Regions from separate parts of the Homo sapiens genome. Here region 1 is linked to region 2. The links come from fine-mapping of genetic effects on plasma protein levels. Region 2 holds a variant in brackets. A gene starts in the other region. All regions are shown on their reverse strands.

Region 1 (15,217 bases), not on the chromosome of region 2:
GTCTCGAATTCCTGACCTCAAATGATCCACATGCCTCCGCTTCCCAAAGTGCTGGGATTACAGATGTGAGCTACCATGCACGGCGAGGCTCAGATTTTAATAACAGAATTTCCATGGCTGGATGATATCACACAGGACTTACTTTTAAACTTTGTTGGAAAAAAATTAATATGAGTCCTATAAGTAAAACAGAGCCCTAGAGGAGCAGGTCCACACTCTTGGTGTTTTGGCTCTGGAGTATGACGGTTCCTACCAATGATAGCTACACAGACGTTTGAAGGTTTTGCCTTCTTTTAGGTAAACTCAAGGAAGATGATCTGTAAACGATCAGTGTCACATTTCTACTTCTTTAGTGGAACTTAGGCAGATAGCGGTGGGAGCTCCAGGAGAGAATTTCACGTGATTATTTATACTCCTCTTATCTAAATCACCCCACTACCTTCTGGAGGCACCACAGCAGCCTCTCTACTGGTTCCCTGATGCTATCTGCATCTACAATCTGTTTCCTTATTGTAGCCAGAGCGGTTTTTTTTTAACATGATATTTCGTTGTTTAGAACTGTTCCGCAGTTTTTGTTGATGAATAAATTCCAACATATCCTGGCGTTAGAATAGCTTAACACTTAGGAGTGGGGAGTGGGGGGCTTAGAAATCAGAGCATCTGAGCAGATCCCACGTTCACTGAGCTGTGTGAGAAGTCACGTTACTTCTCATTGTTTGCCTCTTCAGTTTGTCTAACTAAAAAAAAAAAAAGAAAAAAAAAACAGGAAAATCACGAATTTCCCAATCCATTTCTTTCTTTTTTTCTTTTCTTTTCTTTTTTTTTTTTGTTTTGTTTTGTTTTGTTTTAAGATGCCCAAGCTGAAGTGCAGTGATGCTTGGTCACCCAGGCTGGAGTGTAGTGGTGCAATCTCAGCTCACGGCTCCAACCTCCGCCTCAGGGGTTCCAGTGATTCTCCTGCCTCAGTCTCCTGAGTAGCCGGGATTTAAAACACCCACCAATACACCCAGCTAATTTTTGTATTTTTAGTAGACACGGGGTTTCACCATGTTCGCCAGGCTGGTCTTGAACTCCTGACCTCAGGTGATCCCCCGCCTCGTTCTCTCAAAGTGCTGGGATAACAGGCAGAGCAACCACGCCCAGCTATTGATACATTTCTTAATACAAGCTCCTGGTTCTGCTGTTTTGATATATTAAATATCCAGCAATAAATTTCTAGGTTCATAAATCTACAAAAATAAAATTAAACCTATTGCTGAAGACAAATTTTGTATTGCAGTTTTATGAGCTTTGATTCCTTCTCCACTTGCAGGTAAATGCTATTTAGTGGCAGGAAGACATTTCGCTTCTGTAAAAGGTATTAGAAACAATATAGCAGTAATAGAATTTATAACTACAAAACTATGCGCTCTTAAGATTGAAAATGCAAGCACATCTCTCCCAAAACATTTGTAATGAATAATGTGTCAACAAAAAGTATACAGTCATTATAGTCAACTCAATTTATACACTAAAGTCTTTTTTTGTTTGTTTTTGGGGGTTTTTTTGAGACGGAGTTTTGCTCTTGTTGCCCAGCCTGGAGTGCAAAGACACAATCTCAGCTCACTGCAACCTCCACCTCCTGGGTTCAAGCGATTCTCCTGCCTCAGCCTCCCAAGTGGCTGGGATTACAGGTGCCTGCAACCAAGCCTGGCTAATTTTTGTTTTTGTTTTTTTTTTAATAGAGACAGGGTTTCACCATGTTAGCCAGGCTGGTCTTGAACTCCTGACCTCAGATGATCCACCTGCCTCAGCCTCCCAAAGTGCTGGGATTACAGGCATGAGCCACCGTGCCCAGCCTAATTTATACACTAAAGTCTTTTATATTTTAATTTTGGCCACTAACTCCATTATGTGACATTCCTGTTTGTTTTGTTTTGTTTATGGTATCAGTAAAAACTCTTAAGTTGTAAGAGGGAAGAAAGTGTAAAAAAAAAAATTCATGAAAAATGTAATTAATTCTCATGAGTGCACAAACTCTGGAGGCTACAATAGAAGTTTTATATGGAAAATCCAATCAATACAGTAATTTTCAAGGTTGGGAGAGGGGATGCTCATGGACAAATGGGCCTCTGACATCTACAGAATTTTTAATTTGGTTCATCTACCTTCAGAAAACCTTTCACAAAAACATGACATTTGCTATAGAAAGATCAAGTAGTTTATTCCCTCACACATACAAAAATAGGAAACTGAGGCTTACAGAAGCTAGATTACTTACCTTGAAAATATATATATACACATATATATATATTTTTTTTGAGCTGGAGTCTCGCTCCGTTTCCCAGGCTGGAATGCAGTGGCAGGATCACGGCTCACCGCAACCTCCGCCTCCCGGGTTCAAGCAATTCTCCTGCCTCAGCCTGCAGAGTAGCTGGGACTACAGGTGCGTGCCACCACACCCAGCTAATTTTTTTGTATTTTTACTAGAGACGGGGTTTTACTATGTTGGCCAGGATGGTCTCGATCTCCTGAACTGGTGATCCACCCGCCTCAGCCTCCCAAAGTGCTGAGATTACAGGTGTGAGCCACTGCGCCCAGCCAATTTTTGTATTTTTTGTAGAGACAGGGTTTCCCTGTGTTGCCCAGGCTGGTGTCTTAGAACTCCTGGACTCTTTAGCCCAGCATGGTGGTACGCACCTGCAGTCCCAGCTACTTGGGAGGCTGAGGCAGGAGAATCACTTGAGCCTGGGAGGCAGAGGCTGCAGTGAGCTGAGATTGCACGACTGCACCCCAGCCTGGGCAACAGAGCAAGACTCCATCTAAAAAAAAAAAAAATCCTGGGTTCAAGTGATCCTCCCACCTCAGCCTCCCATGTCACTGGGACCACAGGCACGCACCACCACACCTGGCTAATTTTTGTATTTTTTGTAGAGACAGGGTTTCTCTATGTTGCCCAGGCTGGTCTCTTAGGACTCTTGGACTCAAGTGATCCTCCCAACTTGGCCTCCCAGTGTACTGTAATTACAGGCATGAGCTACTGCATTATTAATATATAAATGCATCAAACAAATGTATCGGGGATTCCAGTGGATTCTAAGTGGACTTGGACATGTTGGGATGTGCCTGGAACACTAGTGGGCATGGGCCGCCCATCTGCATTTGCAGGAGAACTGAAAAATATCCAGAAGGCAAAACCCTTTAGGAGCTACAAGAAGCAGGCCCTAGAGGAGAGTAAGGCAAGTGAGGCATGCAGGACACAACATTTAAGGAGGCCTCACTCTCAGGAGCTGTCCCTGCACTTTCACGAGCCTGCGAGAGAGGGCTTCCTTAAATTTCCCACTGATTCCTCTTTTGTCTCACCAAGTCACAGCCCTGGTAAGAAGCCAGAAGTGGCTGGGCTTGGTGGCTTATGCCTGTAATCCCAACACTTTGGGAGGCTGAGGCAGGCGGATCACCTGAAGTCAGGAGTTTGAGACCAGCCTGGCCAACATGGTGAAACTCTTGTCTCTACTAAAAATACCAAAATTAGACAGGCATGGCGGTGGGTGCCTGTAATCCCAGCTACTTGGGATGCTGAGGCAGGAGAATCGCTTGAACCTGGGAGGCGGAGGCTGCAGTGAGCCGAGGTCGCACCACTGCACTCCAGCCTAGATGACAGAGCAAGACTCCGTCTCAAAAAAAAAAAAAAAAAAAAAAAAAAGAAGCCAGATGTGTCCAGCTTGTTCCAGTGGTCAGAATTGGGCACAGAGTTTTATCATAAGAACGTGTTGCAGCTACTAATAGGAGTAAAAAGAAAGAATTTACTACAATGATGTAGCAGACATTTGTAATGCAATGTGAATATTTTGTTGTACAGATGGGGGTGGGGTGTCTTGCTGTGTTGCCCAGGCTAGTCTCAAATGCCTGACCTCAAGTGATCCTCTCAACTCAGCCTCCCAAAGTGCCAGGACTACAGGTGTGAGCAAATTGCTGAGTCTTGATGAGGGTAAGGGTCATGTTCCAGGGTCAAAGTCCAGCTGAGAGTCATCGTGAGGATCAGAGTGGGGGTCAGTGTCAGAGTGAGGATAAGGAGTGTGAGGCAAACATTCAAAGCCTGGGTCAGGGCGAGGGTCAGAGTCAGTTTCAGGGTCAGAGTTCATCACAGAGTGAGAAAGACTTAGTGCCAGGGTCAGGCTGAGTGTGTAGTTCAGGCTCAGCATAAGTTTCAGATTCACAGCAGGTTCAAGGACATGGTGAAGGTATGGATAAGGGTCCTTATAGAGTCAGGGTGAGGTCAGGATCAAGGAGACCATAAGGGTCAAGTCAGGGTCAGTGGAAAGTAAGCAGCAGAGTCAGGGTCAGGTAAGGGTCAGATTTATGGTCATGATGAGGGTTATGGTGACATTAAGATTTCCAGGCCAGGGGAGGGTCAAGTTGAGTGCCACTGTAGGGTTAGCTTCAATGTTCGGTTGGGATTAAGGGTGATGCTAAAACTGAAGGCAAAAGTGAGGGTCCGGGTCAAGTACAGAATCAGGGTCAGGGTGAGAACGAGATAGAGTGTGTAAGTGACAGTCAGGATCAGGGTCTGGTGAGTGTCACAGTCAGATGCAAGGTGAGAGTGAGCACCAGGGTAAGGCTCAGGTGTGAAGGAGGGGGTGGTGTCAGAACGAGAGCAAGGTCAGAGTCAAGGTGAGAGTGTATGCTTCAGGGTCAAGAGTCATGGTTAAAGGCCAGGTGCAGTGGCTCACACCTGTAGTCCCAGTGCTTTGGGAGGCTAAGGTGGGAGGCTTGCTTGAGGCCAGGGGTTCAAGACCAGCATGGACAACATAGTGAGACCCCATCTCTACAAAAAATACAAAAAAAAATAGCCAGGCATAGTGGCATGCACCTGTGGTCCCAGCTACTCAGGAAGCTGAGGTAGGAGGATCGCTTGAGCTCTGGAGGTCAAAGTTGCTGTGAGCCATGCTGGCACCACTGCACTACAGCCTGGGTGACAGAGCAAGACCCTGCCTCTTTAAAAAAAAAAAAAGTCATAATTATGATCACTGTCTAGGTCAAGTTGAGGATCAAGGGTCAGGGTCATAGTGAGGGTCAGAGTCAACATCATGCTAAGGGAAGGGTCAGTGAAGGTCAATTTCAGGGTAAGGGTCAGGGTAGGATTCAGGTTGAGGGTCAGAGACAGGGTGAAAATTAGGATCAGGTAAAGTTTAGGGTCCAATTCAGCATCAGGATCAGTATAAGAATGAGAATGAGAGGCAATGTCAGTGTGAGAGTCAGGGTCATTGTGAGGGCAAGGTGTCCATTATGATCAGGGGCAAGATGAAGCTAGAGGTGAGGCTCAAGTTCAGGGTCAGCTCTAGGTCAGGTTCAATATGAGGGTGAGGATAAGGGCAGGGTTATGGCTATAATGTTTTACCATTTATTTACAATCTTATTTCTAGTATTAATTCAGATACTGCTAAGCAAAAGAAGGTTATTCTTACTAATTCTAATTTATTTTCCTTCAGGAACAGTAATGGATTTGGGGCACTCTCTGCTTTAGTTATTTTATTTTTATTATTATGAACCATCAGGTTCATATCACCGTCTCTGAAAAATCAAAATATCCCCAATTTTACTTCTTGTAGATTTATAACCAGTCACTTCGTTGATAGTAATATGAGAGCAGAAAGTGCAGGTAACAGATTTTTCTGTCTTAAAAATATTTTTTGCAGCTTCTCAATTGCACAAGCTTATGGAATGGTCGGAATGGAGTTTCAATGTTGAACTTCCCAGTGAGAATCTTTTCTACCTTACACCTGTAATTGGTCATTTTCCTTTGAGCACCTGAGAAGTGCTTAGCTCAGCAGCTCCCATAGCTGGATAGTTATAAAGGTATGGAAAATTCCTCTTCATGAATTGAGCCAAAGCGGCTTCTAACATTCTTTTCAGCTAAGCTGAAAGACAAATACAGTGGTCCCTCCGTATCTGTGGGTTCCGCATCTGTGGATTCAACCAACCAAGGATGGAAAATATTTGGGGAGAAAAATGGATGGTTGCCTCTGTACTGAACATGTACAGGCTTTTTTTCTTGTCGTTACTCCCTAAATAATACAGTGTAACAACTATTTGCACAGCATTGACGTTGTAGTCGGTATTGTAAGTAATCTAGCCATGATGTGAAGTCCACGAAGAGATGTGCGTGGGTTACATGCAAACATTTCGCCATTCTGCATAAGGCACCGGAGCGTTGTGCTGTGCGCTCTCCTAGCGTCCCCCACTCACTTTCCTCCACCCACACACACCAGGCCAGGTCTCTCTTGCAAAGGTGAGGCTGCCGACTACTGTCCCGCCTGAGCGGGCTCTGGTCCTCACTCACAGACTGAGATTTCCTGAGAGGTGCCGTGGAGAAGGCCCCAGACTCTGCCTGGACCACCGACCCCAACCCAGAGGAGCTCGCCGCCTGCTTCCCTGGGAGGCGCCACTCTCCCAAGCTGGATCTAGGGCCGACCACACCCCAGGGTTGGAAGCACCGCTGGGGACACTGAGCGGGTTCCCTTTCCACCCTGATCCAGGCTGCAGAGACCTACAAAACAACAGTCGGTTCACAAGTCCCAGAGGAAAGCTTGCTGGAGGTTGGAACGAGGAGCAATCCCTCTGGGCCCCAAACTTTTCCCGCGTTAGAGAGAACACCGAAAAGGTCCAGAACTGCGCCCTCCAGCTCCCCGCGCGCACCCTGAGCCGCGTCTGATTGCTGTGCGGCGCCTCCTAGCCGCGCCCCCGCCCCGCGCACCCCCGCCCCCGCTCAGCACCCCGGGAACCCCCTCCCCCCGCGCGCCCCCGCCCCGCGCACCCTCCCCCGGAGGGCCCTCCCCTCTGCGCGTGGAGGCTTTTCCTGGAGACTGCGCCGCGGGTCTAACACCTTCATTTCGTTTTTAAAAAGCTCTTGAGTCTGGCCCGTCCCTGGTTCCGCCCAGAGCCCTAAAATAGAGGCTTCGAGTCTGGAGGTCTGGGAGAAAGGGAGCTAGACCGGGAATTGATCTGAGAAGCTTGGGGTGGGGGGAAGGCGGATTCCTCTGCTTCCCAATCCTGGCATCTGCGCCCAGGGATGTTGGAGCCAAAGGGAAGTGGCTTCCCCTCCTGAAATATAAGGGGCGCGCTAAAGGGTTCCCAGGATCCCTTCCAACTCTAAATTCCTGCGATGCCTGGGGCTCCGGGGAGGTATTTTGCGGTAGTCAGAGTCCGAAGATCCTAGAATGTAGTTTGAGCTGGGGCTAAGGACAGGGGATTGAAAAGTCGAGGCGGTGGACCTGGCGCAGGATGAACAAGACTGGGAGACTTCCAACAGTTTCCTCCTCGACAAGCAGGTCACAGGACAATGTCTGGAGGACTTCTATCCCCCTTTCTTGTTTCTGCCACCCCCTCCCCTGCAGCTCTGCACTCTCTCTAGTCCCGCCTTCCTGGCCCTCGTTCAGCCTGTTTTAGTTTAGAATCGCTGCCCGGTGGTCACTCAAGGCTGCTAACCTCTGCTGTAAGGAATTAAGCTTCCAAGAGCATATCTAAGAAGGAGGGCGGAAGGAAAGGGACCGAGTGCCTCCACATGTCAGGACAGACCATGAAAGAGAAGCCAGGAAGTCCAACAAAACCAGCACTGGTCTTTATTGAGGTGTCAGGGTAGAGTGGCAGGAGCACAGCCTAAGGACATGAAGGTCAGAGTTTCTCAGAGAGGAGGGGCTGGGTCCCTGAGCTAGGAGGAGGGCGGTGGGTGACTCGGGAGCTCATGAGACTTCAGGAAGTCCCTGTACTTGGCCAGGAAAGGGTTGGCCAGAGTGTTCAGCTCTTGCCGAAGCTCCTGCAGAGCCTTGTCTCGCTCTTGGGGCTCCCCTGTCACCTGCTGCCTGTAATAGTTGATGTAGAAGTTCATCCAGTCCTCCACCACAGTCACCATGTCTTCTTCAGAGACGAGAGGATCATTGAAGACCTGGGGGGTTGCGGAGAGGCAGTTGGCAAGGGAGAATGTGGTCAGCAATGGGATTCGGGAATACTAGAATAGTGCCACAGCACCAACTCTCACATTCTCTTTCCTCTGCATTGTATCCCGTGTCTCTCGTTGTTTCCATCAACTCCACCATTACTTCACCAGCTCCAATTATCCTCTTCCTCCACTTCCCCGGCACCCCCCAGTCTCCAGGCCAGTCCTTTGAAATGGAAAGCTTGGACTCACCTGCTGATTCAGCAGAACGCTGAACTCCTTCAATCCTGCGGAAATGAGATCCTTATTGGCCTTAAGAAGAGCCATCTGCCTGGGTAGAGAAAAGGGTAGAATTTACATATCTGTTTCCCTCCTCACTGGGTATTTCCCCCAACCCACTTCCTCCCCTTAAAAATCCCTCCTGCCCTGCAGGGCTATCTCCTTTCCAAAACCTTTCACATCCTGCCCTGCTCTGAGGTCACGATTTTCCCAGGTTGGGCTCACCTTCAGGTCTAACAGGCTGTATATGTCTCACCCACACTCTTGAGGGTGCGTGAATCTCTCTGTGCCAAGCTATAGATGTAGGCAAGGAGTCAAGTGTCAGCCTAAGATAGAAACGCCCTGCATCTAGGTCCTGAAGGAGGGTGATAGGTCATTCTAGGGAGGAGAAGAAGGGAGAGGCTTCCCTGAAGGTAGAAAGATAACAAGGCCAAAAAAAAAAAAAAAAAAGATAAATGAGGAAACCCAGGAAATGCAAGAAGGCAAGAGCCAAACCAGGGGCATGTTCCTGCTTTTTGCCCCATATTTCAGTATCCAGGCTCGAAATGCTATGGAAATTGACGTTTACTGAGCCCTATTACATGACAGAGGCTTTTGTGTAATCACAACGATGTGATCGCAATGATTCTCCCAATTCGGAGATGATGTATTAATAGCAGCTTGCATTACATTTATTCATTTGTGCCAAGCACTGTTTCAAACATGTACAAAATATTTATCCTATAAAATTTCTTTTTAGACACATTTTGCAGATAAGCCACCTGTAAGCGTGTGGACTGAACTCCACCACGCTGTGCTCCATAAGAATGGAGATAAATAGCCGGGCGTGGTGGCGGGCACCTGTAGTCTCAGCTACTTGGGAGGCTGAGGCACGAAAATCGCTTGAACCCAGGAGGCAGAGGTTGCAGTGAGCCAAGATCACACCACAGCACTCCAGCCTGGGTGACAGGGCGAGACTCCATCTCAAAAGAAAAAAAAGAATGGAGATGGATTTGTCTTGTTTACTACCCTGTCAACAGGTACCCAATAAAGCAGAAATACTCTTTTTCCTCTTTTTAAATATTTTTCCAGATATTTTCCATTTTCAGTAGATGTTTCTCAAATTTCAAAATCACTATATACTAATTGAAATAATTAAAACAATACAAAAACGTACACTGAAAAACTGAATCATTTTTGCCCCCTCCAAAGTAACCAGCATTAAACATTGTATATTTCCTGTCACTTTTTTTTTCCATTCAAAACCCAACATTCATAGGTGCCTATACACTCATAAAGCTTTGTTGATTTGCCTTTTTGGTTGTAGCATTTTTTAATCAATATACAGCAAAACTGACTTCCTTTTGGTGTACAGTATATTAAATTTTTTTTTTTTGAGAGGGAGTCTCCCTCTGTGGCCCAGGCTGGAGTGCAGTGATGCGATCTCAGCTCACTGCAAACTTTACCTCCCAGGTTCAGGCGATTCTCCTGCCTCAGCCTCCCAAGTAGCTGGGATTACAGGCGTGCATCACCACGCCTAGCTAATTTTTGTATTTTAGTAGAGATGGGGTTTCACCATGTTGGCCAGGCTAGTCTCGAACTCCTGACCTCAAGTGATCGACCCACCTTGGCCTCCCAAAGTGCTGGGATTACAGGTGTGAGCTACCGCATCTGGCCTAGTTTATTAATTTTATAACAGATTTGTGTAACTACAAACGCAGTTAAGATACAGAATGTTTCTGTCACCCAAAAACCACTCCTTCACGTTACCCTTTTGTAGCCACCCCTACCCTCACCCATAACTTCTGGCAACCACTTATCTGTTCATCACTACAGTTAAGCCTTTTTCAGGATGTCATATAAATGGAATCATACAGTATGTAACCTTTGAGACTGACTTTTTTTGGTCAGCATGATGTTCTTGAGCTCCATCCAAGTTGTCACAAGTGTCAGTGGACACATTGCATTGTATGGATGCACTGTAGTTTGTTCATTCAGCCACGGAAGGACATCTGGATTGTTTGTACTTTGGGGCAAGTGTGAATAGAGTTGCTATAAACATTTGTGTACAGGTTTCCATGTGAACATGTTTTCATTTATATAGGGTGGAAAGTATGTGTTACCGGCCAGGCACGGTGGCTCCCATCTGTGATCCCAGCACTTTGGGAGGTCAAGGCAGGCAGATCACTTGAGGTCAGGAGTTCGAGACCATCCTGGCTAACATGGCGAAACCCCCTCTCTACTAAAAATACAAAAATTAGCCAGACATGGTGGCATGCACCTGTAATCCCAGCTACTTGGGAGGCTGAGGCAGGAGAATCGCTTGAACCCAGGAGGAAGAGGCCGCAGTGAGCGAAGATCACGCCACTGCACTCCAGCCTGGGTGACAGAGTGAGACCTTGTCTCTAAATAAATAAATAAATAAATAAATTTATTATCTTACAGACTTAGAGGTCAGAAATCTAAAATGAGACTCACTAGGCTAAAATTAAGTTGTCCTCTAGGCTGTGTTCCCCTTGGAATCTCTGAAAAAGAGTTCTTTTTCTTTCCTCTTCTAGTCTATAGAAGAACCCACATTCTTTCACTCCTGGTCCCTTTCCAGCTTGAAAGCCAGCAATGACCACCAGGTCCAGTCTTTCTCACATCACACCAGGCCGACTGTCTCCTACATCCTTTCACTTCTAAATAATTTTTCTTAAATATTTCTTTAAAAATAATTCATTACCAGATGGGAAAGATCAAGATCCCAATGCCCTTCCAAAGCTCATTAAGGAAAAGTTTCAGGAAGGTCTCTGGTACATGCCAGGAAACTCAAAAGAGATGGTGCTGCCTCAGATGGCTTAGAAGACCATGCTGCCAAGAACACATCTAACATTGAAGCCACGCACAGTGGCTCATGCCTGTAAGAGGCAGAGACGGCAGGATCGTCTGAGCCCAAGGGTTCAAGACCAGCCTGGGCAACATAGTGAGACCCCATCTTTTAAAAAAAAAAGGAAAAAAAAATCTAATTTTGTTCATTCCTCAAAATTTCCTGGCACAGTTGGAACTAATCTAACTACCTGGACTATAATGAATTGCAGAGTAAAATTAGTGAGATGTAGTGAAGAATTGAAGTCTCCTCCCTCAACCAGTGTCTTGAGAATAGCAGGGGAAACTGATTCCCTTTCAGCATGCTAGATACATCAATAAAGGAAGGGTTGAACGTGAGATTACAAAAACACATTTGCTAAAGAATTGTAGAAAACCAGGATCACAAACTCATTCTGCAACAGAAAAATAAAGCACTGCTGATTTACAGAGGAATTCACTTCTGGTGATGTCTCTTAAAAATTAAGAAACCTAATAGGAACTCCCTCATCGAGGCAGGCTCTGCTTCAGCTGAACAAGAAATTAGCCAGAGGGAGGAAAAGAGAACTGTTTGGACTTCCAGGAAGGCCTCTCCTTCCACCGAGAGGACTGCAATGAAGACCTCAATCATCAGGGAAAGAAGAGCCTTCTCCAGAAATCTGATTGGAATTGATGACCCAAATCCCACTCAGTCAACGCAAAACCCTGACTTGCTCGTGGCAGTACCAGGTTGGAGTCAGGGCAAAAAGGTTGTAGATTTCATGTTACATAGTTTGGCCCATGGTTTCCCCTGTGAACATTTTGGGAGGGAGGTGAGAGCTGAACTGGTTAGGTGGAACCTTGGTCTTATTTCCTGGAGATGTGACGTTTTTGGGGCCTGTTCCTGCTGTGACTGGCACAGCAATCAGGACCTGCAGCCTCCAGAGGGTCCCAGGGCTGGGGAGGAGACATGAGCCTTGCGCATCTGAAGGTCAGCGTCTTGGCAGCATGGCTACTCGCAAGAGGGAGGAGCTCACTCTGGATCCATTCGAGAGAGACTTGTCCCTTCCCCCTCTTCTGCCCCACCCCTGGGCCACTTTCCTGTCCCCTGACTCCCACTTGACTTTGTTTTCACTAATTGGAGCTTAGCTCAGAAAATGGAGGGGGCTGAAGTTATAGGTTATGGGAGGGGAAATTTAAGTTTGGGAAGACAGAGGCTCCCTTGATTGGCACTATCAGCCACATCTGCAGCCACATGAGGGTCTCAATGCTGGGGCAGGGGGCAGTGAGACTGGCCAGGAACCTGAGTCCCCCGGGGACTCGCAGACACCTGCCCCACACATCCTGAGTGTGCTGAGGGAGACCCAGCCGAGATCAGCTGTGCTCCTGGGTAGGTGAGAGCAGGCCCTGCAGGGGGCCCAGTCCACCCAGGAAGGATGCCCAGAGTGGCTGAGTGTGCACCTCCCTCTTCTGCCTCTCCTTTTCCGCTGCAAGCAAGACCGGGGGTCAGGAGTTACAGGTGCCAGAGTCCAGAACGGGCCCCTCCTCCCCAGCAATGTGGGTGGGGTCAGGGGCTCAGGTCAAATTCAAGGAAAATCTTCAAGCCACATGGTGTAGAGCCAAAGCTAAAGAGGCCGCCCTAATAATAGACAGCAGCAGCCCCTTACAGATATGCTCAGACTCATAGGGTCTCAAAATGCAATTCTCCACAGTAGAAAGGACATCTGCCCTGACAGAAGACTGCACTCCTAGATAAACAGGGGTCATCTGGCCCATTATTTAAAGGTAGACCCGTATGTTCAGATTATGTTAGTGGAATAAAATTCATGACATGAACATTTTCTTTGGAAAGAAACATCCCTTAAATGGCTCCTGGAGCCTAAAACATCCTCTGGAACTCCCTTGAGGCCATGTACGTCATGACTGCTAAAATTATGATGAGAACCAAGTCTTATTTTCCTACAGGTAAATAGAACAAATGGAGACAAAGGCCTGGGCAGCCCCACTGCATGTTTCAGGAGGAAAAGTAATGTCAGCTAGGGATTCTTTCCTTTAACTGTCTTCAAATTCTTTCATCCAATCCTTCTAAAGAATCTTTGTGTATACTCCCACACAAGTTTTGTAGACATTTATTTTTGCCTCATACATTTAAATCATAGCAAAGGCTTTTAATTGTGACAGGATCCAAACACATTTAAACAAACCGCACATCGCTCTTTTGAATGTGTCCAACACAATGTTAATGGGGTGGTGATTTGGCCCTGACCACTATATATTTTTTTAAAAACCAAACAGGTTTTTCCTTAGCAGCTGGGAGTTTTACAACATGCCTTTTACTTCTTGAACTTGTATTTCTATTCCACTATCCCCACTTAACTTTATCCTAAGATAACTCACATGCTTTTGTGCTTGTATTTTGTTCACTCCCATTCTACTTACTTGCAACTTCTCTCATGTGCTGTGTCTTTCTGTTGGTCTCTCTGTCTCACTCTCTCTCTGTATAAATACATGGATAGACAGCTCTGACATATATATTCAAGAGGAAATTTATATATATATATAACATATATAGACACATATTTAGTAAAATGCGGTTTACCAAAGTGAATGTTTCAAATTTTAATAAATATTTATGAAACAGAAATTCCAATTGTATTGGAAATAAATCCTCTAATCAGATGGATGGCATAGAATTGAGGGAATTGTTGAAGGGTCCCTATTCTGGTGGTCTGGGACAACGCCCCTTGTAAATTTCAGGCAGGTGAGATTGGCAATTGGGAGAAGGAAGGAAACGTGAGAAGGGCCCAGGGGCAGGGACTCCCCTGGACACCGTTTCCGGGCCTAGTTGATTTTGAGAATGAGTGAGTATGGACTTCAAAGAACTGGAATTTGATTCTCTAAAACTTCCCAGGACCGCATACCCATTGGAAGGGTTCTTCCTGCTCATCTCGGGACCATGGTGTTCTGCCTACAGGGGTCTCTGAAATACCTGGATTAGTAGGAGACAGCTGAATTCTCACAACTGCTTCTGCTTTGGGGAACTCCACCCCACACTGCAGAGCAGAGGAGAGTGAAAAAGTTAGATAACATGGAGTGTCAATTCAGACATGGTTTGGCCTCAGAGATGCCATTCTGCGACTATCAGGAGTCCCTGCCACACTGAAAACCCCTAATCCTGATCAAGGAAACCAAGCTTCAAGGGATGTGGGGAGCTGGAGACAGGTGAGATGCAGGGGGGTTGTTACGAAAGGCATAATTGGGCATGAGCCGCTGACGTCTCTTGGTGTAGACTTGGTTGAGAGTAGACAGCAGTGGTGTAACTGACAGCAGAGCAGACAGATCATCCGGAGTGAGCAACCACTGCCGGCTGAGCTTGGGTTGGCTCTTTCTGGGCTCTGGTGAGGGGGGTCTCAGTGGGAAACCCCACAAGGGTAGACCCTGGAGGCAGCATCCAGGCTGGAGGATTTGGGGGCATCTTGGAGACAAACTGAGCTGGGGTTCCCACAGGAACCAGTTAAGGTGCGGGCTGGGCTAGCAGCTGGATCTGTGAATTGTACAAGGGACCCTGTTTGGTCACTGAAAAGAAAGGCCTCACCCCCTTTGCTTTCAAAGTGATTCCCCAACCCCCATATTTGTAGTATTCAGGGGCATGCTCCTGAGGTTAAAGAGTTTGTAAATGTGCTTTGCAAATCATTTGAAACTGACCTTCTTATAGCGACTGTACTTAACATCTAGTATGGAAAATAGGACCTATGAGACACCTTCTTTCCATCCAGAGGAGCAGAGTTAAAGGTCCCCTATTTCTCTTACACAGCAGCAACTGTGTGTTTGAAAGGTCAGCTCCATGTGTGACCTATGTAGCTTAGAAAGACTGTAGCACCCTGAGGACAGGACAGCAGCCCCGAAGCTCGCTCTGGGAGTAACTCTAGCTCTCACACTTCATTGGAACTTCCCCTATATTTCATGAACTTGACATAGTTGTTTTGCCAACCAGAATTTTGAAACTAATGTTTATATACTTTAAAAGGTTTTTTGTTTGTTTGTTTTGAGACGTAGTCTCGCTCTGTCACCCAGGCTGGAGCGCAGTGGCGCGATCTCGGCTCATGGCAACCTCCACCTCCCAGGTTCAAGCGATTCTCCGGCCTCAGCCTCCTGAGTATCTGGGATTACAGGTACCTGCCACCACGCCTGGCTATTTTTTGTATTTTTAGTGGAGACGGG
Region 2 (15,217 bases):
GTGTGTTGTGTATTCTGTGTGTGTGTCTGGATATGTATGTCTGCTTGGACTGTGTACACAGGTGCCCAGGACCACGTCTGTGGGTGCCTGTCCATGCGCGTGTGAGTGAACAGGTGCATGCGTGTCTTTGTGCGCCTTCGCGGCTACGCATGGCCTAATGGCGCCCTGCCTGCCTCCACGGTCCCCTGTGGTTTTGCAGCCTGCCCTGGAGAGTTCCTCTGTTCTGTGAATGGACTCTGTGTCCCTGCCTGTGATGGGGTCAAGGACTGCCCCAACGGCCTGGATGAGAGAAACTGCGGTGAGTAACCCGCCCGCGCATCCCTCCTCTCCCTGCCCATCCCTTCTCCTTCCTCACCTTTCCTGCTCTGAGCTGAGTGGAGACCCCACTTCTACATGCAGCTTCCATTATGAGCACCCAGGAAGTGGGGTTCTCTCACTGTGCCGGGGTGGCAAAATGAGACAGACCAGCAATGCAGCCTCCCCGAGACCACCTCGTGGGACAGTGGCAGGGAGAAGTGGGGAGCCAGGTCTCCTGACTTCCAGCTCAGGGCCATCACCCCCAGCCCCTGTCCCAGCCAGCCTTCCAGGAAGGAACAGAATGGGTGAGGGAGATGTCCCCCTCCTCTGCCCTGTCAAAGGTTTAAATATGTGGGAAGAGGGAAGCGAGATGTTCATGGTGGGGGGATGATCCTGCCACGGTGCTGGGGGAGGTACCTCATATTCAGAAACTGAACATCTGGCTTCAAGTTCTGGCTCAGCCAAGTGACCTTGGACAAGTCACCTCATCTGTTTCCACCAGTGAAATGGGGTATCTCACAGGGTTGCTGTGAAACTTTGGGTGTAAAATAGCAGAGAAAGAGGCCGGGCGCAGTGGCTCATGCCTGTAATCCTAGCACTTTGGGAGGCGGAGTCGAGCGGATCACCTGAGGTCAGGAGTTCAAGATCAGCCTGGCCAACATGGTGAAACCCCGTCTCTACTAAAAATACAATAATTAGCTGGGCGTGGTAGCAGGAGCCTGTAATTAATCTCAGCTACTCGGGAGTCTGAGGCAGGAGAATCGCTTGGACCTGGGAGGTTGCAGTGAGATCATGCCATCGCACTCCAGCCTTCGTGACAAGAGCGAGACATAAAAATAAAGTAGCAGAGAAAGAGATTTGTGATTGGTAACGTGCAATACAGCACACCTTCTACAGGCATCGCCAAGCCCCGGCTGGCTCCTCTGGCTTCCTCCCACCTGTCCCCTCTCTGTGTCCCCACACAGTTTGCAGAGCCACATTCCAGTGCAAAGAGGACAGCACATGCATCTCACTGCCCAAGGTCTGTGATGGGCAGCCTGATTGTCTCAACGGCAGCGACGAAGAGCAGTGCCAGGAAGGTAGGGCAGGCCTAGCCGAGTGTCTGGAGGGACACCAAAGGCAGTCTAGGCCTGCTACATGCTTCAGCAAAAGTTTCTAGCTTCTCCTCTCAACACCCACCAACCCCTCTGTATTTACATCTGTATGTCTGTCCATTCATCCATCCATCCATCCATCCATCCATCCATCCATCCATCCATCCATCTTCTGGTCTCCAATCACCGTCTGTCCATTGATTCATACAGCTACCCATTTATCTATGCATCTACTGACCTGTGCAACCATCAATCTCCCTATCATCAAACTGTCAATCTACCCATTTATTGGTTTGGCTGACTACTGGTCTATATGGCCACTGTTCCATCCATCCATCCATCCATCCATCCATCCACCCACCCATCTACCCACCCACCCATCCACCCATCCATCATCCATCCGTCCATCATCCATCCATCCATCATCCGTCTATCCATCCATCCATCCATCCATCATCCATCCATCCACCCATCGTCCATCCGTCCATCATCCATCCATCCATCCATCATCCATCCATCATCCATCTATCCATCCATCATCCTTCCACCCATCCGTCATCCACCCATCGATCATCCATCTGTCCATCATCCATCCATACATCATCCATCTATCCATCCATCCATTCATCCATCCATCATCCATGCATCATCCATCCATCATCCATCCATCCATCCATCATCCGTCTATCCATCCATCCATCATCCATCCATCCATCCATCATCCATCCGTCCATCATCCATCCATCCATCATCCATCTATCCATCCATCCATCCGTCCATCATCCATCCATCCATCATCCATCCATCATCCATCCGTCCATCACCCATCCATCCATCATCCATCCATCCATCATCCATCCATCCATCATCCATCCGTCCATCATCCATCCATCCATCGTCCATCATCCATCCATCCATCCATCATCCATCCATCCATCATCCATCCATCCATCCATCATCCATCCATTCATCCATCATCCATCCATTCATCCATCATCCATCTGTCCATCGTCTATCCATCCATCATCCATCATCCATCCATCCATCCATCCATCCATCCATCATCCATCCATCCATCATCCATCAATCCATCAATCCATCATCCATCCATCCATCATCCATCGATCCATCATCCATCCATCCATGCACCCATCCATCATCCATCCATCCATCCATCATCCATCCATTCATCCATCATCCATCCATCCATCATCCATCCATCCATCATCCATCCATCCATGCAACCATCCATCATCCATCCATCCATCATCCATCCATCCATCATCCATCCATCCATCCATCATCCATCCATCCATTCATCCATCATCCATCCATCCATCATCCGTTCATCCATCATCCATCCATTCACCCATCATCCATCCATCCATCATCCATCCATCATCCGTCCATCCATCATCTGTCCATCATCCATCCATCCATCATCCATCCAACCATCCATCATCCATCCATCCACCATCCATCCATTCATCCGTCAGCCATCCATCCATCCATGCACCCATCCATCATCCATCCATCCATCCATCCATCATCCATCCATCATCCATCCATCATCCACCCATCCATCATCCATCCATCCATCTACCCATCCATCCACCCATCCATCCACCCATCCACTGATCTCCCTAGCCCCCTGTCTGTCCACTGGTCCTTATATCCACACGTTTATCCAACCTTCTAGCTGTCTGTCAGTCTCCCTAATGGACCACCACTCCACCCATTGGCTTGTCTGCTCAGTCTTCTGTCTGGGTCTATTTATCCATCCATCCATCTACCCATCCAACTGACCAACTGACCAACACTTGCAGGCTACCCAGCGATAGGCAAGGTGCAGTAAGGAAGTGAGAATAAAACAGCAGAGATGCAGGCCCTGCCTTCCAAGGCTCATCTGTTAGTAGGAGGATATGATGGGTGACTCTCCTGCCTTGTAGGAAGATTGGAGGGCAGGGAGGAGGTCAGACATGAAAAGCTTCCTGGAGGAGGTAGGTGTTTGGCCCTTGGTGAGAGCTAAAACTTAAATAGGCAGGAGGAAAGGAGAGAGGCAAAGACCAAGTGGTGGAGTGGAAAGTTCTTTACAGTGAAGAGCAGGGAGGAAAATGTGGACAACCGGGCAGGGCCAGAGCCTGGGAGATTGCCAGGCTAGGTGCGGACCCTGGTCTAAAAGTGGAGGCACAGTTCTGCCTTCAAGTTCCACACTGGAGGGGGAGGCATGATCTTGTGGTCAGGATCTCCAGTCTGAGAATGGAGACACCACTTTGTGCTCAATAGGCCAGTCTGAGTGGAGGGGCTGTGGGGGGCGGGGGGACATGGCCTGCTTTTAGGAGACCCTAAAGGAGACTCAGGAAAAGACTCTCTAGTCACCTCCTGGCTCTTCTGGCTCCATCGTTCCTGCACCCCACTTTGGAAGGTTTCCTTGGGGCTCAGAGACCCACCTTCTGTGCCCTGCCCCCATCCCCTCTGTCCCAGGGGTGCCATGTGGGACATTCACCTTCCAGTGTGAGGACCGGAGCTGCGTGAAGAAGCCCAACCCGCAGTGTGATGGGCGGCCCGACTGCAGGGACGGCTCGGATGAGGAGCACTGTGGTGAGCCCTGCCTGGCTGCCGGGGCCCTGGAGCTTGGGAGGGAGGGGGTGCCCACAGCAGGAAGCTGGAGGGAAATCTCACTGTTGTCCCCTGGTCTCTCTCTATCTCATCCTCTGCCCCCTTGCCTGGGTCCTGATGGTCTCTCCCCCTCCATCATTCTCCTGTTCTCTGTCTCTCCATCTCTTTCCTTTGCCCTTCCTCTCTGTCTGCTTCTCCCCTTCCCCTCCTCCTCTGTCCACCCCACCACCTGCCCCCATCCCCAGACTGTGGCCTCCAGGGCCCCTCCAGCCGCATTGTTGGTGGAGCTGTGTCCTCCGAGGGTGAGTGGCCATGGCAGGCCAGCCTCCAGGTTCGGGGTCGACACATCTGTGGGGGGGCCCTCATCGCTGACCGCTGGGTGATAACAGCTGCCCACTGCTTCCAGGAGGACAGGTGAGCGGGAGGGTGTGGGGGCCTAGGCAGTAAGAGACAAGGGCAGGGAAGGCCCGGTGGGAGGTGCACTGTGTCTGAGCTCTTTGCAGATAGAGGGAAGGGTGGTGGACCCCCCAGACAGGCTACTGTGATGTGAGTTCTAGTCCTGGCTCCACCAGGACCTTCTGGGTCCCCGGACACATTGTTCCACCTCTCTGCCATCTACTTTTGGTATCTTGCTTTAAGTTGGGCCAGTAATTCATTCATTCATCTCATTCACTCATTCAGCAACACTTGTGCTCCTACTATGTGCCAGGGCTGTGCTAGATGCTGGGGATTCAGTAAAGGACAGAACTGCCCAACCTGGTCATAAGCTATGACACTCCCCGAGGTGTGACACGAGGTAGCAGGTGGGGCTGGGGAGCCCCCAGGGGACATCTCATCAGGCCTCATGGCCATCTTTCCCATCTGCTTGGTGGGCTGAAACCTCCCCCAATCCACCCCCAGACAGATCTGGGCTCCAGATCCCGCCCCCAGGCCCTGCACAGGGATCCCCTTTTGTATCCTCTCTGGGACGCAGGGCGCTCTGACCACCTAGCTCTCTTTAACCCCATCTCAGGCTCCCCACTGCCCTCAGGTAGAGGGTAGAGACCCGAAGGCTGCCCATCTGCCACCCAGGCAGCTGACTGCCGCAGTCCAATTCCTCCACGCTCAACTCCCACCCGCTCCCCACTAGGACCCACCAGCCTCAGGGAATTCAGAGCAGCCTGGGTCTGTAAAGCACACAGGAAAAAAGAAATCTGTGTCGGGGGCCTGGCACTGTGCTACATTTTTTAGATACACGGTCTTATTGGATTCTCTCAAGAACATTCGAGTAGAAAATGCCATTCCCATTTGCAGATGAGGTGGCAGAGGCTTAGAGAGGCACACCCATGTCTAGGGAGGGATGAAGCTGGGGCGTGGAACCCAGGCAGGCCGAGTGGGTGAAGGCTGAACGCTGTACCACCAGCTAGGCGACCTTCAGGGAGGGAAGGGAGGGCTGGGTGTGGAGGGCACTGTCCCGGGCGGGGATCTGGCTATCTTGAGGGTCCCTGGATGGGGAGAGGCAGCTTCCTCCCACCTCACCTCACCCCACCCCACCCCACCCCACCCCACCCCAGCATGGCCTCCACGGTGCTGTGGACCGTGTTCCTGGGCAAGGTGTGGCAGAACTCGCGCTGGCCTGGAGAGGTGTCCTTCAAGGTGAGCCGCCTGCTCCTGCACCCGTACCACGAAGAGGACAGCCATGACTACGACGTGGCGCTGCTGCAGCTCGACCACCCGGTGGTGCGCTCGGCCGCCGTGCGCCCCGTCTGCCTGCCCGCGCGCTCCCACTTCTTCGAGCCCGGCCTGCACTGCTGGATTACGGGCTGGGGCGCCTTGCGCGAGGGCGGTGAGCAGCGGGGACTTGCGGCGGGAGGCGGAGGGAGACCGTGCGGATCTGCGCCGTAACACCTGGCCTGGAGAAGGGCGGGGCTGGGGGTCCCGGGGCTCCACCCCATAGGCCCTCTAGTGCTGGGATTCAAATTGGGCTGAATTTTACGGTAGAAAACCACCATTTAATGCGGCCTGTAGGCCCCTGCCCCTCCCCTCCTAGCTCTTCCCTTCCTTCTGGAAGGGCGTTATGTGTGGGGCAAAGGGGCAGGTCTGGGACGCCACTGCCCACGTGCAAGCTCCACCTGCTGTTCCTTGGGCTGCAAGGGTGGAAGGCTCTTAATTACTAGCACTTTCCACATCCAGGCTGGATTTTAGGGGAACTTGACTTCATATAATCCACCCAACAGCCCTACGGGCGGATGCTGTGGCCCTATTTTATGGATGGAGAAACCAAGGCTCAGAGACATGTTGCTGTAAGTCACACAGCCAGAGAGGACTGGAGCAAAGATTAGAACCCAGGGCTGGCTGCCTCCAGAGCCCCTGCTCTTCCTGCTACTGCTCTCAGAAACAGGGTCTCTCCCCTTTCTACGTTCACTGACCAGAGTCCCTGGCGGCCACCGCACAGTTTTGGGGACACAGACCCAGCTGGCAAACCTACAGACATGCCCTGCAGCGTTAGTGTTGGTGGCTTCAAAAATGTGTACAGTGACTTACAATCTGGAAGCAGGCGGGGCCGCAGAGATATTTTAAGGATGGGGAAACTGAGGCTCAGAGGAACAGTGACTTACCCAAGGGGATGGCAGTGGTCATGGCAAAGCAAAGGCTGGTTCATTCACTATTCCTTCACTCATTCAGTCACTCAATGACACTTTCTGAGCACCAAGTACGTACCAGGCGTGGGGTTAGGGGAAGGGTACATAAGGATGAAGAGAGAACATTCTCGGGGGAGACAGACAGTGGTAAGAGCTGACATGGATGGGGAGATGCAGGAACAGTGGAGACACAGAGGAGGCTCCTGCCCAGCTAGGGTCAGGGGAGGCTTCCAGGGGAGGGTTGTTTAAGCTGAGGCCTGGAAGATGAGTTGGCAACATTCAGACAAAGGGGAAAGACATTCAGGTGAAGACACAGGTGCCAAGACAGGAAGATGTGAGAACATCCGCAGCCTGCCAGAGGGGCTGAGGTGGGGGGCAGGCGTGCCTGGGCGAGGAGCAACCAGAATGGCAGACAGGGCCTTGGGCGAGGAGCAACCAGAATGGCAGACAGGGCCTTGCCGGCCAGCATAAGGATCTTAGGCCAGGAGTTCTCCCTCCTACCTGCACCTTAGAACCATACGGGGAGTTTCAAGAAAAACTGCGTATCAAGGCTCCCCGGGGGACTGTGATATGCAGCCCTCGTGGAGAAGCGCTAGGGCAGACTGCAGAGTTGGGGCACTGCAGAGTTCTAAGGAAACCATGAAGGGATCAGATGTGGGCTTCGGAGACATCTGCAGGTGCTGTAACAGAGCAGCGAGGAGCCAGCCAGAGCCCAGAGGTGCCTCAGCAGACAGAGGTGGGGGACAAGAAGCTGGAGGAAGACACTCATCCACACGGGCTTTTTTCTTTTTTCTTTTTTTTGTTTTTTTGAGACAGAGTTTCGCTCTTGTTGCCCAGGCTGGAGTGCAATGGCGCGATCTCGGCTCGGATCCCCCTCCTCCCGGGTTCAAGCGGTTCTCCTGCCTCAGCCTCCTGAGTAACTGGGATTACAGGCATGTGCCACCACACCCAGCTAATTTTGTATTTTTAGTACAGACAGGGTTTCTCCATGTTGGTCAAGCTGGTCTCAAACTCTTGACCTCAGGTGTTCCGTCCGCCTCAGCCTCCCAAAGTGCTGGGATTACAGGCATGAGCCACCGTGCCCGGCCCTCCACATGGGCTTTGGTCGGGGGCTGTCACCATGAACCCCACAGAGAAAGAGCTAGAATAAAGTGACAGGGAGGCAGAGGGGCAGGTGCGACCCTAGCAGGGGTAAGGGTGGGCAGAGCAGGAGAGAAGTAGGCTCCTGAGATGCAAAGGGAATAATGTTAGGGAGAATAGAGAACAGGGGCTCCAGGCTCCTGAGATCTCACTTCTGCCCTTGACCACGGACAGGCCCCATCAGCAACGCTCTGCAGAAAGTGGATGTGCAGTTGATCCCACAGGACCTGTGCAGCGAGG[T/C]CTATCGCTACCAGGTGACGCCACGCATGCTGTGTGCCGGCTACCGCAAGGGCAAGAAGGATGCCTGTCAGGTGAGTCCCCCGGGCATGGGAGGGAGAGAGGAGGGAGAAAGGATGCTGCCCACATCACCAGGGTCTGGCCCTTTGCTCACATCAGCCTGCTGAAGCCTCCCATCCTCCCAGCAAGGTGGTGATGGCCACCCCTACTTTACAGAAGAGGAGACTGGGGCTTAGAAAGGTTGAGGAGCTTGCCCAAGGTTGCAGAGCCACAGATCAGAAGAGATGCTGTGATGGGCAGGTGTTAGGCTCAAACCCAGTTCTGCTCCTTGCCCACCACAAGGCACTAGGCCCAGGGTCCCACAGTGAGGTGGATGCATGGAAGAAGAAAGGGGTGTCAGCCACAGAAGGGAGGCGGAGGCAGAGTGGGGGCGTGGGGACACAGCCACAGTTCCAGGAGGTCCCAGGCTGGCTGGAGGCCGGGGAGGGCTGGCTTGGGCTCTCTCCATTTAGCAGGCGAGGGGAAAGCAGAGCTTTAAGACTGAACGTGACTCTGGCACCCAGTCAATTCCCAACAGTCAGGACTTAATCCCTATGGCTCTTCACCTGGAAAAGGGGGTGCCCTTACCCTGCTTCAGTCCTTTCTCCTTTCCCCCTTTCAGGGTGACTCAGGTGGTCCGCTGGTGTGCAAGGCACTCAGTGGCCGCTGGTTCCTGGCGGGGCTGGTCAGCTGGGGCCTGGGCTGTGGCCGGCCTAACTACTTCGGCGTCTACACCCGCATCACAGGTGTGATCAGCTGGATCCAGCAAGTGGTGACCTGAGGAACTGCCCCCCTGCAAAGCAGGGCCCACCTCCTGGACTCAGAGAGCCCAGGGCAACTGCCAAGCAGGGGGACAAGTATTCTGGCGGGGGGTGGGGGAGAGAGCAGGCCCTGTGGTGGCAGGAGGTGGCATCTTGTCTCGTCCCTGATGTCTGCTCCAGTGATGGCAGGAGGATGGAGAAGTGCCAGCAGCTGGGGGTCAAGACGTCCCCTGAGGACCCAGGCCCACACCCAGCCCTTCTGCCTCCCAATTCTCTCTCCTCCGTCCCCTTCCTCCACTGCTGCCTAATGCAAGGCAGTGGCTCAGCAGCAAGAATGCTGGTTCTACATCCCGAGGAGTGTCTGAGGTGCGCCCCACTCTGTACAGAGGCTGTTTGGGCAGCCTTGCCTCCAGAGAGCAGATTCCAGCTTCGGAAGCCCCTGGTCTAACTTGGGATCTGGGAATGGAAGGTGCTCCCATCGGAGGGGACCCTCAGAGCCCTGGAGACTGCCAGGTGGGCCTGCTGCCACTGTAAGCCAAAAGGTGGGGAAGTCCTGACTCCAGGGTCCTTGCCCCACCCCTGCCTGCCACCTGGGCCCTCACAGCCCAGACCCTCACTGGGAGGTGAGCTCAGCTGCCCTTTGGAATAAAGCTGCCTGATCCAAGCCCCGCTGCTGGAGTTTGAATGGGACCCAGGCACCAGCCTCATGCCCTTGACTGGAGCAGCCCCTGCTTCCTGCTCAGCCTGTTTGACAAGTGTCCAGAAGGCCAAGGTGGGCTCAGTGGCAGTGGGCGTGGCCACTGAGGGCTGGGGCCTGCAGGGCAGCTGCCCAGGTCCCAGAAGAAATGCCAGGAAGGCAATCATTTGGGGACCCTCAGGTCAGAGGGATGTGAGGAGCAATCGTCTCCTTTTGGAACCTTAGGAGGAAACTGAGGCTCAGAGAGGCGGTTAAGACATCCTCATAGTGGCACTGGGGGTTAGGAGTGGAGGTGGCATAGACTCCTGTCTCCCAGCTCCCTGTCTGCCAAGGCCCCGTCCAGTGCGACACTCCCTTCCTTTGCATTCTTTGAGCCACTGAATAAAGCCTTGGGCTCCAACCATGTGCCAGCACTATGCTGGGGCCACAGGGGTGAAGGACCTGGCTCCTGACCCCAGGAGCAGTGGGGATGATCCAGTGGGAAGGGGCCGGAGGGGAGCGTGGACTGGGCAAGTCAAGGCAAGCTGCCTGGAGGCTGTGAGACTTGAGCTGGGGTTCAGAGGTGGTCCAGGTGGGAATATCCGGGAAGGATATTCCAGGCAGGGAAGAGCACGTGCAAAGGCACAGTCCCGGAAGAATGAGGCACGCTAGGACCCAGCAAGCCGAGTGAGTGTTAGAACAGAGCTCGAGAGGATGACTCAAGAATTCAGAGGGGCGAACTGAGGCGGGATAGCAGAGCCTGGGGTTGAGCCAAGGATTTGATCTTGAAAGCTCTGGGGAGCCACGGTGGGCTCTATAGCATAGGAGTGACATGAGAGGATTCACATTTTGGAACCAGCCTTGGCACCAGTGTGCAGGGAGCGGCAGGCAGGGAGGCTGGTTAGGAGGCCACCGCAGGATTCCAGGATGGAGAGGATGGGCCGGGACTGAGCAGCGCCATGGGATGGACTGGAGGATGATTTTAGACCCCTGGGGGCAGTTGTGATGGAGGCAGGGGGCTCGCTGGAGGTGAGGGTGGACGGTCAAGTGTGGACAACTCTTTCTAGACGCCTAACTGGGAGCGGAAGGGAGAGAGGGAGCTTCAGAGGGGCCCCAGACTGAAGAGGGGTTTTTCCAACATGGGCGCTGCTGCCAGGTCTGTGGGTGAATGAGGCAGAAGGGGAACCAGGGACGGGGAGCACCCACCTGGGTCCTGCCAGGACGAGCCGGAGCAGCTGGGTGGGCAGGGAGCGTCTCCAGAGCAGGTGGGCAGAACACATGCAGAATACCTTGGGTGATCTGGAATCACCCTGGGCCCTACCTCAGTCTTCATCGGAATCCTGGAGGGCGGGGGACGTGTCATCTGTTCTCCTAACAAGCCTCCTGGTGACTCTTTTGCAAGGATAGTTGGACCCTAAAAATGAGTCCAGCTTTGGAGTGGAGTGTCCTCAGGGGAAGTGGCGAGGCCCTCCAGGCTTGAGCTGGCAAGAGGGTGCCCCCGCCCCAGCCTGTGGAAGGCCTGCGCCTTAGGGGCTCACTGCCCGGCAGGATTTCCTCGAGCAGCGGGGAGGACTGAGGAGTTGAAGGAACTGGCCAGGGTGGGTGGAGGGTCTGGGGTCTGGGCTGGGTCCAGCAGGGTCAGAGAAGGGAGAGGGCGGGGTGTTTATATTTCCTAGGATTTTGGGCAGAGGGGTGGCAGCAATAGGGAGGGATGGCGGTGGCCCAGGTGTCAGAGTAGAAGTGGAGGGGGCGCGCTGAGAGGTTTAGGATGTGGCAGAGGCAGCCCAGGGCTCTCCCTAGAGTTCTGTTTTCTGGCTCCCGGCCAGGTAGGGCAGGTGCTCTGGTATCCGGCCCCAGGGCAAAGGATATAGCCAGTTCCCCAAGCCCTCCCTGCAACACACACAGGAAAATGACAACAGGGCAGCGTCCCTGGGCTTTTGGGACAAAGCCGCGTTCCTTTGGACCAGACTACCACACCTTTAGTTTAGCCCCGTCCCCAAAAGTGGCCCAGAGAAAGAGGGCAACAGCCAGGCTGGGCTGTTCCTTTGGGTTTTATTACATGGTGGGGTCGGACACAGCTGAGAAGCAAGGACCCATCCCGGGAAGTCAAACACAGGAGGGCCCCTGGCTCAGCCGCCATACCCACTCTCCCCGGGCAGTTCCTGAGTCCTCCACCGCCCCTGCCCAGCCCCTTCTGCTGCCTCTCCCCGCCCCCCAGGCCAGGCGCTGGGCCAGCAATGCAAATGGCTGGGGGTGGGATCACCAAAGAGAAGGCCAAGCCAACTACCCCTACTCTGCCAGGCCAGCTCCCCACAACCTGCATCCCCAATACCTGAATCTCCATTTGCAAACACAGTGTTATGCCCAGGGGTCGGGCTGGGTCCTTCCCATCCCAGGGCAGCTGAAGGTGGGCGGCCCCTATATACTGCCTGAGGGCCTTCAGGGACTTTGCTCCTCTGTGCACCCTCACAACAACCCTGTGAGGTAGGTGGGGTGGGAGGAGTGACCCCCTGGACTAAGGCTCAAGGAGGCAATGTGACCGGGCCAGGAAGGAGCACATCCACCATGCAGCAGGGGAGCCCGGGAGAGGGGACGCAGGTGCCGGAGAGACACAGCCAGACATTGCCACACATCTGCCATGAGCAGTCCACTCTGCCCAGAGGTCCTGGGGCCCACCTTGGGCCTTAAGAGGTCCCAGGGGGGCCCCGCCCCGCCCCTGGAGGCAGGAGTAAGTCACAGCCCCACGGGTGCAGACAGAGGAGGCCGGGGAGAGGGTGCTTCTTCCTTCTCAGGCCCGGGGCCCACCCCATGGTACAAAAATAAAGGATTTCAGATGGGAACCCCAAGTCCCTGGAGGTGATCTGGGGCCTCACATCCGGGTGCCTCTGGCTTGTAACAGCTAGAAAAAAAAGAGGGGAAGGGCAGGAGGATGGGAGGGGCGGAGGTGGGGCCGGTAAGGAGGGGGTGATGCAGGGCAAGGGGGCGGAGAGGAGATTGACGGGTGGGGGAGAGGGAGAGAGAGAGAGGCAGTTGAGTCACAGGCTTCCTTCTGGAGGAGGGGGTGGGGCTGAGGCCCAAAGAAGGTGGATTCAGAACTGAGTTGGGGGGAGCAGCAAGGGCTCCCCAACTAACCCATCCAGGAGCCCCATGCCCCGTCTTGGGCTCGGTGGCGGCCACCTACAGAGGCCAGATTCTGCCAAGACTCTGAAGGGGGTGGGATGGGGGTTGCTCAGGGCTGGGAGAGGCACTGATGCCCCAGGCGAAAGAAGCCACAGGGAGCAGCTGTCTGTCCCAATTTTAGAGGCAATTGTGGCCCAGAGAGGGACAGTGACTTGCCCAAGGTCACAGAGCAGGCAGAAAAGAGTGGGATAGGGGGCTTGTGGGCACATGGCCAGGGCTTTTTCTGCCACTCTGCAATCCTTAAGCCACTCTGGCTGACACTTCATGGGCCAAGGGTATCCAAAAGTGGCCTGTCCTCCCCATCCCCACAGAAATAGGGGATGCCACAAGGCAGTGACACAGGAGCTCCTGGATGTGCAGGGACTTGGCCAGGGCCTCTGGCTTCAGCGGTCCCTCCCTCCCCACCAGCCTGGCTCTGGTGCTGATGGGCTGGTAGGAAAGTTCCCACTCCCTAACTTTCTTCTCCTCTCAGAGCCTCACCCCCAAGGCCAAGGTCGGATGAGAAACTTTGGTGGGTGGAGATAATCAGCCGAAAGCTCGGCTCAAGTCCAAGGATCAAGAGATGAGCACCCTCCTCGCTCCACCCCTCCCTCCAGCACCGCCAAGCTACAAACCAGGGATGGCAGCTCTGGGGGCGGGCGAGGGGCCGAGGAGAAGCCCTCACTGCAAGCTCAGCCTCAGGTCTGAGAGGGTGCGGACGGGAACCTGCAAGGAGGAAACGTGAGGAGGAGGCCGGGAGGAGAGGAGGGGGGGCAGGGCCTGCAGCCAGGGCCCAGTCTCAGAGGTGCCCGGCAGGGTTAGTGGGCACAGAGGAGGTGCAGCTGCGCCCCTCCTCCCCAGGCTGGGAGGCAGGAGGTACCAGAAGGGGCGCAGGAGGCGGCAGGCAGGACGCTCTGGGATGCAGGGCCAGGGGGCCTGGGTGGAGGGCACGGGAGGCTGGGACCAGGGCAGACCCGGGATGGAGGCGTGAGCAGGCAGAGAGAAAACCCGGACAGGGGCAGAGAGGGAAGAGGCAGGGTGCAGATGAGATCCAGGAGGAAGAAGAGGTGGATGAAGATGAGGCAGGACCTCCAGCGGGAAGCGGAGGAGGAGGCAGTGGTGGGAGGGAGAAAAGGTTAGCGGGATCCTGAGATGACTGGGCTGCAAAGAGAAAGTGAGAGAAGGGATGGTTATGCGGGTGAGGCGCCAGGCAAGTGGCTGAGCTAACCCTGGTGCCCCCCCAGCAGCCCCGGGGCCCCCGGTTCTGCAGCTGGCTCCAGCAAGGAGTGGGCGGGAGGCTCCGGCTTTGCTTAGCAATCATCCTCCTGGGGGTTGGCTGCACCTTTCTCCTGTGCATCTGCCTCCACCTGCACCTGTTCCACCTCCACCTCCTCCACCTCCTCCTCCTGCTGCTGCTGCTCCTCCAGCTGCTCCTCCGTGCTCTGTGAACCAGCCGGCGGACCCAGGGAAGAAAGAGTGGAGACACTAACAGAGGGGCCAGGGCCTGCTGGCTATCCCCAAAGACCCGGTCTCAGGCAAGGTGAAAGGGACCTCAGGAGAGGGGAGGGCTCCAGCCACAGAAGCTGGGGGCATCTTCTCCGGTCCCCTGGGCAGCTTGGGGAGGGCCTGGGGAAAGCAGCTGAGGATGGGATGCTGTGGGCATGCTCCGGGGTCAGCCTGGCTGCTGTTACATAGAGCGAGGCTGGAGGGAGGGGATGAAGCAGAACAGGGAGGGTGTGGGACTGGGGTATCCCTGAGGGGTGCCTGGGAAGGCCTTGTTTGGAAAGACTGCTCCTCAGTAGAAATGTGGCCAAGGAAGCCCCAGGGCAGACACCACCCAGATCTGGGATGCCAGCCAGTCTCTGACACCCCAGGTCCAGGGGCTTTGGCCCAAAGAGGCAGAAGGAGCAGTCTCGCTCTGCACCCTTGCAGGGCAGCGTCAGCCCTGGCAGTGGTGGGGGTGGGTGGGCAGGCAGGGTGCGTCACAGCAGGACAGGGAGGCAGACAGATAGACAGGAAGCCAGAGGTAAGCCTCCACTGTGTGGGGTTGGGCCCCAGGAGGAGCAGCCTGCCTTCTTCCCAGCCTGGTTCACGCCTGCTCTGTGGCTCTGCGAAGGCCCTTGGGACTTCCCACAGCACTGGGTCCAGGATGGCAGGACCCCCGCTCAGCCCTCTCCCCACAGTGGTACAGTGGATGCTGCCAGGGTGCTCTCAGGAGGCTGCCTCAACAGGCCAGGCGGACACACAGGACTGGCAGCCACCAGGCTGCCCCTATCCTGCAGAGCAGCCAAGGAGGGGGCCTGGGAAAGGGGCAGGATTTACAGCGGTGGCTTCCTCATCCTGGCTCAGGCCAGCTGGGGACATGCACCTGTCCCTGGGGAATAAACGGCCATTTGGGATCCCAGAAGTTCCAGGCTCCAAGGCACTACAAAGAGTATGTGATCCTCCCCTCTCACTTCAGAGAGTGCAGCAAAGGTGCTGGGAGAGGACAAGCCCTGTCCTAAGTCACACAGAGAGTGCCACACTGTGCCCTGACCCCTAGTCCATGCCACAGTGCCCAGTGGCCACTAAGCG

Which allele goes with the higher level. Positions count from the first base shown, and alleles are read on the strand shown. Strength reflects both the effect of a copy and how common the allele is.
For the plasma level of the protein whose gene starts at base 8,479 in region 1, C is the high allele of the variant in region 2 and T is the other (moderate association).

Evidence for each region. PIP is the posterior inclusion probability: the model's chance that the variant is causal. The UK Biobank Pharma Proteomics Project read protein levels with antibody pairs (Olink). The fine-mapping took linkage between variants from a reference panel, not from the people measured, so its PIPs are less certain.
Region 1: it holds the start of AHSP, and the variant in region 2 is fine-mapped to the plasma level of the AHSP protein (UK Biobank, PIP above 0.99).

The regions. Positions count from the first base shown.
Region 1 is chr16:31,521,162-31,536,378 of GRCh38, reverse strand. It overlaps AHSP (alpha hemoglobin stabilizing protein), which reads right to left and starts at 8,479. Exons shown (of 3, transcript NM_016633.4): 1 at 8,417-8,479; 2 at 8,165-8,243; 3 at 7,576-7,921. The coding sequence starts at 8,239. The coding sequence ends at 7,688.
Region 2 is chr22:37,059,691-37,074,907 of GRCh38, reverse strand. KCTD17 (potassium channel tetramerization domain containing 17) reads right to left here. Exons shown (of 9, transcript NM_001282684.2): 6 at 13,986-14,085; 7 at 13,733-13,804; 8 at 13,279-13,369; 9 at 11,518-12,383. The coding sequence ends at 12,314. TMPRSS6 (transmembrane serine protease 6) reads left to right here. Exons shown (of 18, transcript NM_001374504.1): 12 at 200-298; 13 at 1,263-1,376; 14 at 3,876-3,992; 15 at 4,256-4,424; 16 at 5,564-5,835; 17 at 7,946-8,082; 18 at 8,670-9,472. The coding sequence ends at 8,828. Among named protein-coding and RNA genes, the nearest start is that of KCTD17, 16 kb to the right of the region's middle. RefSeq lists enhancers at 10,820-11,643, 12,496-13,353, 13,354-14,211. The variant T/C (reference allele first, on the strand shown) is at 8,012.